4 separate regions of the Homo sapiens genome follow, and all the other regions are linked to region 3. Evidence: fine-mapped expression QTL. A gene starts in region 3. Each other region holds a variant in brackets. All regions are shown on one strand. Distances are from middle to middle.

Evidence for each region.
Region 1: its variant is fine-mapped to the expression of ADCY9 in whole blood (INTERVAL, PIP above 0.99).
Region 2: its variant is fine-mapped to the expression of ADCY9 in whole blood (INTERVAL, PIP above 0.99).
Region 4: its variant is fine-mapped to the expression of ADCY9 in whole blood (TOPMed, PIP above 0.99). The same link has a PIP of 0.9 or more in blood mononuclear cells.

What each region holds. Positions count from the first base shown.
Region 1 is chr16:3,962,705-3,965,388 of GRCh38, forward strand. ADCY9 (adenylate cyclase 9) reads right to left here. Exons shown (of 11, transcript NM_001116.4): 11 at 1-2,684. Among named protein-coding and RNA genes, the nearest start is that of TRIDDENT, 14 kb to the left of the region's middle. The variant C/G (reference allele first, on the strand shown) is at 1,577.
Region 2 is chr16:4,180,090-4,182,773 of GRCh38, forward strand. LOC105371062 (a long non-coding RNA gene) reads right to left here. Exons shown (of 2, transcript NR_188654.1): 2 at 28-222. Among named protein-coding and RNA genes, the nearest start is that of SRL, 61 kb to the right of the region's middle. The variant G/A (reference allele first, on the strand shown) is at 1,170.
Region 3 is chr16:4,115,182-4,117,865 of GRCh38, forward strand. ADCY9 (adenylate cyclase 9) reads right to left here and starts at 1,261. Exons shown (of 11, transcript NM_001116.4): 1 at 509-1,261; 2 at 1-304. The coding sequence starts at 261. RefSeq lists a silencer at 1,399-1,468.
Region 4 is chr16:4,006,609-4,009,292 of GRCh38, forward strand. It overlaps ADCY9 (adenylate cyclase 9), which reads right to left. Exons shown (of 11, transcript NM_001116.4): 3 at 760-950. Among named protein-coding and RNA genes, the nearest start is that of TRIDDENT, 58 kb to the left of the region's middle. The variant C/T (reference allele first, on the strand shown) is at 1,098.

The DNA.
Region 1 (2,684 bases), 150 kb before region 3:
ATTATTAGAATTAACAATTTAAAAAGAGCAGATAAAAGGATATATGGAAAATGCAAACAGTCGGTTCTTGCTAATTCAATTTCAGATTCTAGGCATGATGTGATTTTCCAAACAACCAATTAAAAAAAACTCCTTACCTCGAAAATCTAGAAATTCAAATGCAGACGTGTCTTTGGAAACTACAAATGATTACAGCCCATGTGACAGGAAGCACGCGGCCTTCGGCTCTCCGGATCGTGTGCAAATGTGCAGGGGGAGCCCCCGCGGGTGACGTCAGTGTGGATGAAGTCACGGGTGTGGCAGAGCCTGTGGGGCTCTCAAGCTATTCGAGGGTTTTGTAACTGATGCTCTACATTTGTTTGCATTGGATAAAATTGTGTGTGCTTGTTTACCATATATATATATATATATATATATATATATATATATATATATATATGGATATATAATTCGATCTGAGCTGGGACTGAGAAGAAAATAGCAATTGCAACTCAAAGCAACTATTTACACACATTCAATGCTGAAGTATTGCTTCCTGCCCTAAGTTCCTAAGAGGTATTGCCACCCTGAAGCACGACCCATGCCGTCAGCAGCCCTCGTGCCAGCTGCTTAGAAACTCGTGTCTCCAGCACGATGTGCTCGCTGCCAACAGACAAGAGATGCACGGCGTTTCCGCTGCAGAGATTCTGTGGTTCTGCACTGAGGTATGCATCGGAGCAGGGGACGGGGAGGACCCGAGGGGCTTCGTGGCCCAGAGAGAACGTCTGCACTGGCTGTTTAGGAAGGCTCAGGGTGTTTGAAAGACAACGTTAAGCTCTGGGTGAGTCTGCACGGGGCTGAACCAGACTCCACTTTGCAGCTCCTTGGTTTCCCGGGGTGAGGAATCACAAACACCTTTGTGGTTGGGGAAGGAAATGGGCTTGATGGGGAAGAAGTGTGTGCGGAGAACTTTGCGGAGCATGTTCTGAGCGAGACAGCAAGGTCGTGAGCAAACGCCCAGCCCCTCAAAGCTACACAGCCTGGAGGGGAAAGGGGAGGGGAGGACATTCAAATATACACCTTAATACTGATGCAGAAAGAGCTTCATGTGACCACAATCCCCACGAACAAGGAAAGCATCAGGTAGTGTTTTTTAAGGAAAAAAAAAAATCTGCGGTGTTTTATAATACATTCTTTAGAAGCAAGAGGTATTGTCACAACCACCCTTTCTTCGGTATTGGAAGACCAGCAAACTGACAGTCACACCTGACAGGAAACCTTACAGCTAATGGGGGGAGGTGCCCTGGACTCTCAGGACGCCGGGACCCTGGCTCTGGCTGTCCTGATGGGTGGCCATCCCAGGCACCGCCCCTGGAGAGGTGGCGGGTCAGAATTGTGACTTCTTCATGCCGGGGAGGGCAATCTGTATGTCTCTGGGGAGGAGTAGTGATGATGGGGACTGATGCGGTGTGAAAACGAGACAGTGAGATTTGACAGCGGAAAGCAAAATGCACAGGGACAACGGGCAAGACTGACAAGGAGTGCACCCTGGGCCTCATCAGCGTCCCGGGGTCCCCTGAAAGACTGGCTACAACTC[C/G]GACCGGACAACTCGGGCGAGCTCACTTCCACACAAACTTCAGACTCAATATGGCAAAACATAATCAGACAGGACCAGCAGCCAACTGCCCGGACGGAGCTCCCCCACACCACCCTCGGGATTCCGCCCCTAACAAACCCCGCGTTTGCATCCAGATGCCTCTGTCCCTAGATACGGTGTGAGAACTCCATTTCAGAGCTGGAATTTGCTCCCCAGATTAAATCCTGCCACTGATAGGCCCTGTGCCATCTGAGAGCGGGAGGCAGCCAAGAAACTTCTGGAATTTGTGGAAGCCAAGATGGCACCGGTGCTGCCGGCACAGACCCCCGTGGTTCTGAGCTGGACCCCGGCAGGGAGGAGCCCCCGTGGGTGGCAGGGGCAGCTGGTGGGCTTCTCCTATTCCCCTAGCCTCAGAATTGCACTGGCCATGCTTTGAGGTCCCACTCAGACCCCTCTTGGGGTGGGGAGGTTGGGGGCGGCCCCAGGTGGCCAAAACACAAAAGAGACATCTGGTTACCTTCCTGGGAACTGCCCTCCCCTGTGGCTATGACCCCCCACCCTGAGGACCCAGCACCCCTCCCGGGAGCGCACATGCTTCCGGGTAAATAAATAAATAAATAAATGCAACCTCGGATGTTTATTTGGTATTTCCCTCTCCGATGAGTCAGCTTCCAGGACCAACACCTCCACTCCCGATGGGGAGACCCCTGGGTGGAGGGTCGGGGGTGAGAGGCGGCTCTGAGACCCCCGAGGCCTGGGCACACGGGCGTCGTGCCCGGCTGGCATTTGCTGTCTTGGCCTGCATGCATGTGGGCGAGCCCCTAAACCCGCTCAGTGCAGGGAGCGCGGCTCACCCACAGCCCACGGGGCGCGGTGCTCGGGAAAGTGCGGGTGGGCAATGGGGGGTGGCGGAGCTGTCGTGACATGCCCCCTTCGCACCCCCTCTTGGCGGATTACTGGCACTTTATATCAGATTCATGAATGCAAGTGTGTGTGCGCATGTGTGCTTACATAGAGAGGTCGGGTCGTAGAGGAACACTGTGACATAGACAGAAACAAAATAAACTCAAAAACAGGGTATTAGCCAGAGAACCGAAAATAGTGTCTC
Region 2 (2,684 bases), 65 kb after region 3:
GAGATAATGGACATGCCTGACACAGACTAAGTGTCTAAGAAACGTAAACTATTTTTATGGTAGTAGAAGCAAGATTGCCTGTGACGCTGTATATCTTTCATTTGCCTCTTCAGGTACATTTCTCCTTTTCCATGCTGCACTGCACCCTGGAATTGGCCTGTATGCGCTGCATCGAGATGCTCTTGCCCTCTGACTGCCAGCTGGGTTTGGTCCATGTGGAGCCTGGAATCAAAACCAGAGGGAGAAGGTGGGGACAGGGTTTATGGTTTTTATTCCTCCAAGTCCCTTTTTGAGCTCCTTGACTTAAAGTCCCAGCTCTAGTGAGATCGCCCTCCACACAACCTGCCTCCAGGTGCAGAGGTGGTAAGATCCCACTGTCACCAGCCCCAGAATATTCCACATTCCATAGCAGTTTCCCTATATCCTGCCTCAAAGCCCCCACTTTAAATGTCCCCAATTTAATCTGTTTTCTGCTGGATCCTGACTAATACAAAGAGTGTAGAGAACAAGGGCAGGCCTGGGAATCGGGAGACCTGAATTTAAGTCTCATCTTTGCCACCAGCTCCCTCCGTGACCCTGGGCCACATTTTTCCATTTCCAGGCCTCAAACTTCCTCAATTTTAAAATGAGTGGGTTGGGTCCGGACACAGGGCCTCATGCTTGTAATCCCAGCCCTTTGGGAGGCGGAGACAGGGGTATTGCTTGAGGCCAGGAGTTTAAGTCTGGACAACATCGTGAGACCCTGTCTCTAAAAAAAAATATATATATCTATATATATAGATATATAATAGACATATATAGTATCTATATAGATATATAGACACATATATAGTGTATATAAAGATATATAGACATATATAGATATATATAGACATATATAGACATATATATAGACCTATATAGACTATATATAGACATATATATAGACCTATATATATAGACTATATATATAGACATATATATAGGCCTATACATAGACTATATATATAGACCTATACATATAGACACAGACTATATATATAGACCTATATATAGACATACAGACTATATATAGACATATATAAGACCTATATATAGACATATATAAGACCTATATATAGACATATATAAGACCTATATATATAGACATATATAGACCTATATATATAGACATATATATAGACCTATAT[G/A]CATATAGACATATATATACCTATATATAGACCAATATAGACCTATATATATAGACCAATATAGACCTATATATATATAGACCTATATATATAGACCTATATATATATAGACATATATATAGACACACATACACACACACAAATGAGTAGGCTGGACTATATGGCTCTTTCATGATCCAATTCCCTGCCACTTCTAGGTGTTAAGTTACAGGAGGAGGACACAGATGAGAATAAAAGCTCCCTAGTGAATACGGCAATGATGGCCAGGTTGGCCACTAAGCAGCTCTCCCCACTCTCCACCATTGTATCAGCTCATTCTTACCCAGAAGTCACCTAACTCCTTTCCAAGGACTTTCCTTCTCTTCTCAGGCCATCAGGGTACCAGATGTCTAAATGATCTCCACTCCAAAGCAACAGCCAAGAAAACCCAGGAAATTAAAAATAAATTCCTTTTTCCTTTCAGTAACTCCCTGCCCAGCCCTGGGTTAGCTGGAGAGGTCCCTTCCCAGGTTCCAGTATACCCAGGGGGCCAAACAGGGAAGCCGTTCCACACTGACACCAAAACACTCTCACAGGGAGTGATCTATCTCTGCCCTGGGAAATGCTGGGGACACAGCTGGCTTGCAGGGCAGAGGGAGTGACCTAAACCAGCATCCTGTCAGAAGACATGCAATGCCCTGCATTGAGATCCCTGTCACTGGGCAGGTTTCAAAGAGAGGCCAGGCAGGGTGCGGTTGCTCCTACCTGTAATCCCAGCACAGAGGCTGCAGCGGGAGAATCGCTTGAGATAAGACGTTTGAGACCAGCCTGGCGACAGAGCGAGAAGCCCAATTTATTTTATTTTATTTTTGAGACGGAGTTTCACTCTTGTTGCCCAAGCTGGAGTGTAGTAGCACGATCTGGGCTCACTGCAACCTCCACCTCCTGGGTTCAAGCGATCCTCCTGCCTCAGCCTCCTGAGTAGCTGGAATCACAGGCCTGTGCCTCCACACCCGGCTAATTTTGTATTTTTAGTAGACGGGTTTTACCATGTTGGTCAGACTGGTCTCGAACTCCCAATCTCAAGTGATCCACCTGCCTTCGCCTCCCTAAGTACTGGGATTACAGGCGTAAGCCACAGCGCCCGGTAAACTTTTTTTTGTTCGTTTTTGTGTTTAAGACAGAGTCTGGCCTTGTCAGGCAGGCTGGAGTGCAGTGGCTTGATCTCGGCTCACTGCAACCTCTGCCTCCCAGCTTCAAGCAATCCTCCTGCCTCAGCCTCCCGAGTAGCTGGGACTACAGGCGCCCGCCACCACGCCGGCTAATTTTTGTATTTTTAGTAGAGGGTTTCACCATATTGCCCAGGCTGGTCTGGAACTCCTGACTTTGTGATCCGCCCGCCTCAGCGTCTCAAAGCGCTGAGATTACAGGCTTGAGCCACCGCGCACGGCGTTAGCAAAAATTCTTTCAAATAAAAAATTAGCCAGGTGTAATGATGCACACCTGTAGTCCCAGCTACTGGGAAGGCTGCGGCAG
Region 3 (2,684 bases):
GGAGGCCCTCTCGAACAGCTGGGGCAGCTTCTTCTGCCTGCGCAGCCGGCCTCCGCCGCCCACTCGCCGGGGGACGCCCCCGGAGTCCCCAGAGCTGCTGCAGCTAGAGGAGATGCTGTATTTGCAGTGCTTGGGGTGGCTGTTGGAGGACAGCTGCTTGGGGTTGATCTTGACGCGCACGCTGTTGCTGTCCCCGCTGGAGTCGCAGCTCACCTCGGTGCTGTGGTGATGCAGCAGCTGCTGGTGGGGTGGGGAAGCCATGTTGTCGAGTCCCGGGGCCTGCCCCGGCCGGGGTCACCAGTACCTGCCAGCAAAACGGGGAGAGTTAGCGGCGCTCCCACCTAGGCATGCACGCCTAGAGGCCCGGGACCTGCTCCTGTCCTAAGGGGCGGCTCCAGCACGCGACCTGGACAGGCACCATCTGTTCCTGTGGTTCCCGGCTCAGCGGTGCTCCCACCGCCCCCACCGCCCCCACCTTCGAGGCGCACGAGAACCGCTCGGGACGGACCTAGAACGCCCGGGGGTCCCCGCCGCGTGGCCGCCGTGGCTCCGGGACCGCTTTGCTCGCTCGCCTTCCGCGCCTCTCGCCCCGAGGGTGGCCTCCGCGCCGCGCGGCTTCTCCTCCTCGCGCGCTCGCCTCCTCCAGCTGCGGCTCCGGAGGGAAGTTCAGACCTTGAGCGCTCCCAGCCCCGCGAGCCGCCTGCGCACAAACAACTCCGCTGGCGGCGCGGAGCCCTCCATCCTGCAGGAGCCGCGCTCCGATGCGTCAAAGGCGGCGCGCGGCCGGCCCCGGGCCCGGACCCCGACCCGGAGCAGCGAGCTTCGGCGGGCGCCCCCGGCTCGCGCTCCCCGGCCGCCCCCCGCGCTCCGGGCCGGCCCTGCCCGCGGCGGCGGGCGCTGGGGGTGGGGGCGCCCCGGGCTGCGAGTGCGCGGAGCCCGTCGGCGCGGCCCGTCTAGTGGGGCCTGCTTCCCCCCGAGTGCGCCGCCGCTCCCGCCGCGGCCGCAGCTGTCCCGGGACCGAGCGCGTGGAACCACGGACGCGGGCCCCTCGCCGGGCGGCGGTGCAGACGCTGCCGCAGAGCCGGGCTCCCGCGACGCCGGCCGGGACGCCCGCCCGCCCGCGCCCACGCCGGGGGCCGCCTCCCCGAGCTAGAGATGCGGCCGCCGCCGCGCCCGCCGCCGTGTCCCCCGCGGCCGCTGCCTCATGTCGGAAGAGCTGCCGCCGCCACCATCTCCGGCCCCTGCCCCGCCCGCTGTCACTGACAGACGCGCGCCCGCGCCGCCCCTCGCCCAGCCGCAGCGCGCACGCGCGGCCCGCGCTCGCCGCCACCGCCTCCTGGCCCCGGACACGCGCACGGGCCGCGCGCCGCCCCGCCTTGGTGCGCGCGCTGGGCTGGGGCTGCGGGGCGGGGCGGGGCGGGGCGGGGCGCGCGCTCGGCTCCGCCCCCCGCCCCGGGCGGCGCCGCTTCTAGGCGGCGGGCTGTGGCCGCTGTCCGCGCTCCGGGCGCTGTGGGCCCGCCCTCCCTCGGCGTCCCAGAGGCCGCGCGCCGCCCGGGGTCCCGACCCTGCGGAGAGACCTGAAGGCGCCTGCCGTGGAAGAAGCCGCTGGCCGCAACGTTTGGGAAATCAAAATGTTGCCTTCCCACTCGGCACGCCTTTGGGATAAATCGAAGTTTCCAACCGTTGGATTTCCCTCCCGGGAGGCTCCCCTTGCTCTGTAAGCAATGAATGCGGGCCCCGGGGCACTCGGCCTGCCCTGGACCTGCTCACGGGGCGACCTTCACGGGCCTAGCCTCCAAAGCTGGGCCCACCGACGACCACGTTCCCCCGCCCCAGGGGTAGTTTACCTTGCTGTCCTTGAGCCCTTCTCCCCCTCCTCATGAACTACTGCTTTTCCTTTTACACAAATGAGACTTTCAAAGGAGTCCGCGTCCCATAATGGCAGTTGTGCATTGGCCTCCATAAACATTGCCACGTGTAAATAAAATCCTATTCTCTCTAGCATGCAGATCCCGACCCCTTCTCCCCACACTCCACAGTGCCTCCTGCCAGTCACGGGGCTCTCTTCCATCCCCTCCCTCGCCTCCCAGGCCCAGCGCCGGGGCCCACACCAGGTCTCACTGTTGAATTAGAAAATAAAAGTAAAATGTGATCTGTCCATGCAATGGAATATTATTCGGCTACAAAAAGGAATGGAGCACCGATGCATGCTGCAGTGTGGAGGAACCCGGGAAACGTTATGCTAGTGAAAGAAGCCAAACAAAAAAGGCCACATAGCGTATGATTCCATCCAGATGAAATGTCTCGAATTGGCAAATCCGTAGAGGCGACACAGATTGGAGGTTGCCAGGTGCTAGGGGAGGAAGATAAGCAGCTTGGGGTTTCGTTTTAGGATGATGAAAAAGTCTAGAAATGATCCAACAGGATGAATCTACATACTGCCCTTGAATCATACACTTTAAAGTGGTTTAGGCCGGGAGCGGTGGCTCACGCCTGTAATCCCAGCACTTTGGGAGGCCGAGGTGGGCGGATCACCTGAGGTCGGGAGTTCGAGACCAGCCTGACCAACACGGAGAAACCCCATCTCTACTAAAAATACAAAAATTAGCCGGACGTGGTGGCACATGCCTGTAATCCCAGCTACTCGAGAGGCCGAGGCAGGAGAATTGCTTGAACCCGGGAGG
Region 4 (2,684 bases), 110 kb before region 3:
CATAGGAGAGCTGTTTTGATTCTCTGTCTCATTTTAAGAATGGAGACAGTAGATGTTTAAACTATAAAAATAAACAGAAGGTACCAGTGGGGAAACTAAATCAAATGTGAAAGCAAAGGAACAGCTCATAAACTGAAATGATTTCACACACCCAAGGTCGACCGCGCCAATTCCCTGGTAGTTTATGATGACAGGTCAGTCCAGAAACGGGCACTTCTAGGCAGCTACCAGGAGATCCCGGTTCCAATAATGAAATACTACAATGTTCTCGGCAGCCTGTCCTCTCAGTGAGCTGTGTCCTAGGATTCACCCACACCAACATCATTTCAAGTAATCATAAAATAGTGGATTTCAAGAGACGTAGAAGTATTTGAGAAAGTGGTCTCTGAAATCAGATTATCAACTAGCTCTCCACCCAAGGTGCCAAGGAAAGCCACCTTTACTGTCATTTATCACCAGCTTCTAGAAATCCCAAAAGGCACCACAGGTCCCAGGAAGAGAAAATAACTAATAATTCAAATGAGAAGCATCCTTGTGCAATGGAAAGGCAATGGAGGTGCGTCATATGTCAAAAAGCAAGGATGTTAAAAATGCAGAATGCTACTAACTTTAGACTAAATATTAAAATCGTGAAAACCAAATCGAAGGTCATTCCAAGTTGTTTGCCTCAGACCTGGAGGCTGCTTATTATTTCACGTGCTCTACTGCAGAATTAATAGAAAGTTTTAGAAGTAGGAAAAAAAAAACAAAAAAACTAACCTTAAGGTTATCAAAGGTTTTGACAGTCTGCGCCAAGTCACTGACATTCCCTGATGACGCTGTCCCCTGTCCCCTAGGGCCTGAGGACACCTGTGAGCCGTCAATGACCTCAAAGCCAGAAAGCAAGGCCTCTGCACAGCTGCAGCGAGACTCCTTGGCTCTCTGACCCGATATCAGGTATGTCTTCAAACCTATGATGGATAAAAGTTACAGTCAGCACAGATTGAAAGCACCGTCTGTTGAAACGCAGCTCCGTCTTGCTCTCTGGAGAGGACTCACTCCTGGAAAGTTGAGAGTAAAGTGAAAATGTGAATAGGTCATAGTTTACGACGGACGTC[C/T]ACGATCTCTCCAGAGAGATGCGGCCTCAGGGAGACCGTGGGCCCCCGAGACACACCACTCACCCACGTTACGTTTTCTTGGAGTAATGGCTGCATGTTTCATGTTTTACCTTCAGGGTTAAAATAAGCATTAAAAAGTTCCTCCATGAAAGGGTCCCAGGACCTCCCCGTGAAGGCAGCAAAGCAGATTGGTTGACCCTAGACACTGCTTTGGTTTATTTCCATCTGTGAATACCAGTCCAGTGAGTACCTTCCTAACGGTCAGTCTAGACGTCATGGCAGCTTCCGGTACTGACCATCTTACCTGTGTCAGAGGCTGCAAAACTACCCCGAAAAACAAGACCCTACCAGGGACCAAGAGGCCATTAAAACCTCCCCAGACTCAGAGCTGTTGAGCATCTATTTCCTGTTGGATTCAAACACTCACCCCAGGAACATTCAGCTTTTGTTAAGCTGAGGTCCACATGCATTTTATTGTCTCACAAAATCCCGCATATAGAAAAAAAAAAAAAAGGTGGTCAAAAGGACACTTGACCTGTATCTTTACAATTCTCCTTTGAGGCTGAGCTAACAGCCGGACCCACACTGCGCTGGAAGGAGCTGTGAACAGGTGGGTGGATCCTGCCCCGGGAATCTGCTGGGAAGATGGCAAAGGAGCAGCTTTTCTAGAAAGAGCCCAAGGAATTTTTGAAAAAGAAGCAAACTTTATTTAAAGAAATCCATCCTTTGACTTCACTGGAATTTAACCAGATGGCAAATGTATCGGAAGGAGGGACAATGTAATTTAACATTTAAATAACATTTATTTCAGGCCTAGTGTATGCCACACACCGAGAATAAAATCATGAACAAAGCAGGGTCCCTTCTTTTTTTTTTTTTTAATTGAGATGGAGTCTCACTCTCTCACCCAGGATGGAGTGCAATGGTGCGATCTCAGCTCACTGCAGCCTCCACCTCCTGGGTTCAAGCAATTCTCCTGACTCAGCCTGTGAGCAGGCAGGTGTCCACCACCACGCCTGGCTAATTTTTGTATTTTTAGTAGAGACAGGGTTTCTCCATGTCGGCCAGACTGGCCTAGAACTCCTAGTGATCTGCCCACCTTGGCCTCCCAAAGATGACAGGTGTGAGCCACTGCACCCGGTCGCAGGGACCCTTCTTGAAGGGTTTAAGCTCCAGCTTCAGGTCGTGAAGGGTGTGGCATGGAAAGATGCCATCGAGAGGCGACGTGTCTACAACACTGATCGACTCTGGCTTCTTACGCTGGGTACATATTTGGTCAGCGCTTTAAAATTAATTAATCAGAAACCTAGGGACTACTTCATCAATAATCCCGAATCATTTTATAAGTATGGCCCCATCTCATCACTTCACCTCCCTCTCTCCTTGTAAAAATACTACGTGGCTAATCTTTTTAAGTCAACTGTTCTGAGAATTTGCCAAGAGTCCTAGAAACACGTAAAGACAGCCTAGAACGTAGCCAGGTCATAGCTGAGAATCAAAAGACTTAGATATTTTTAGATGCCAACTGGCCCCAAGAAACTCTTCATGTTTTGTTTTGTTTTGTTTTGTTTTGTTTTTCCTTTAGAG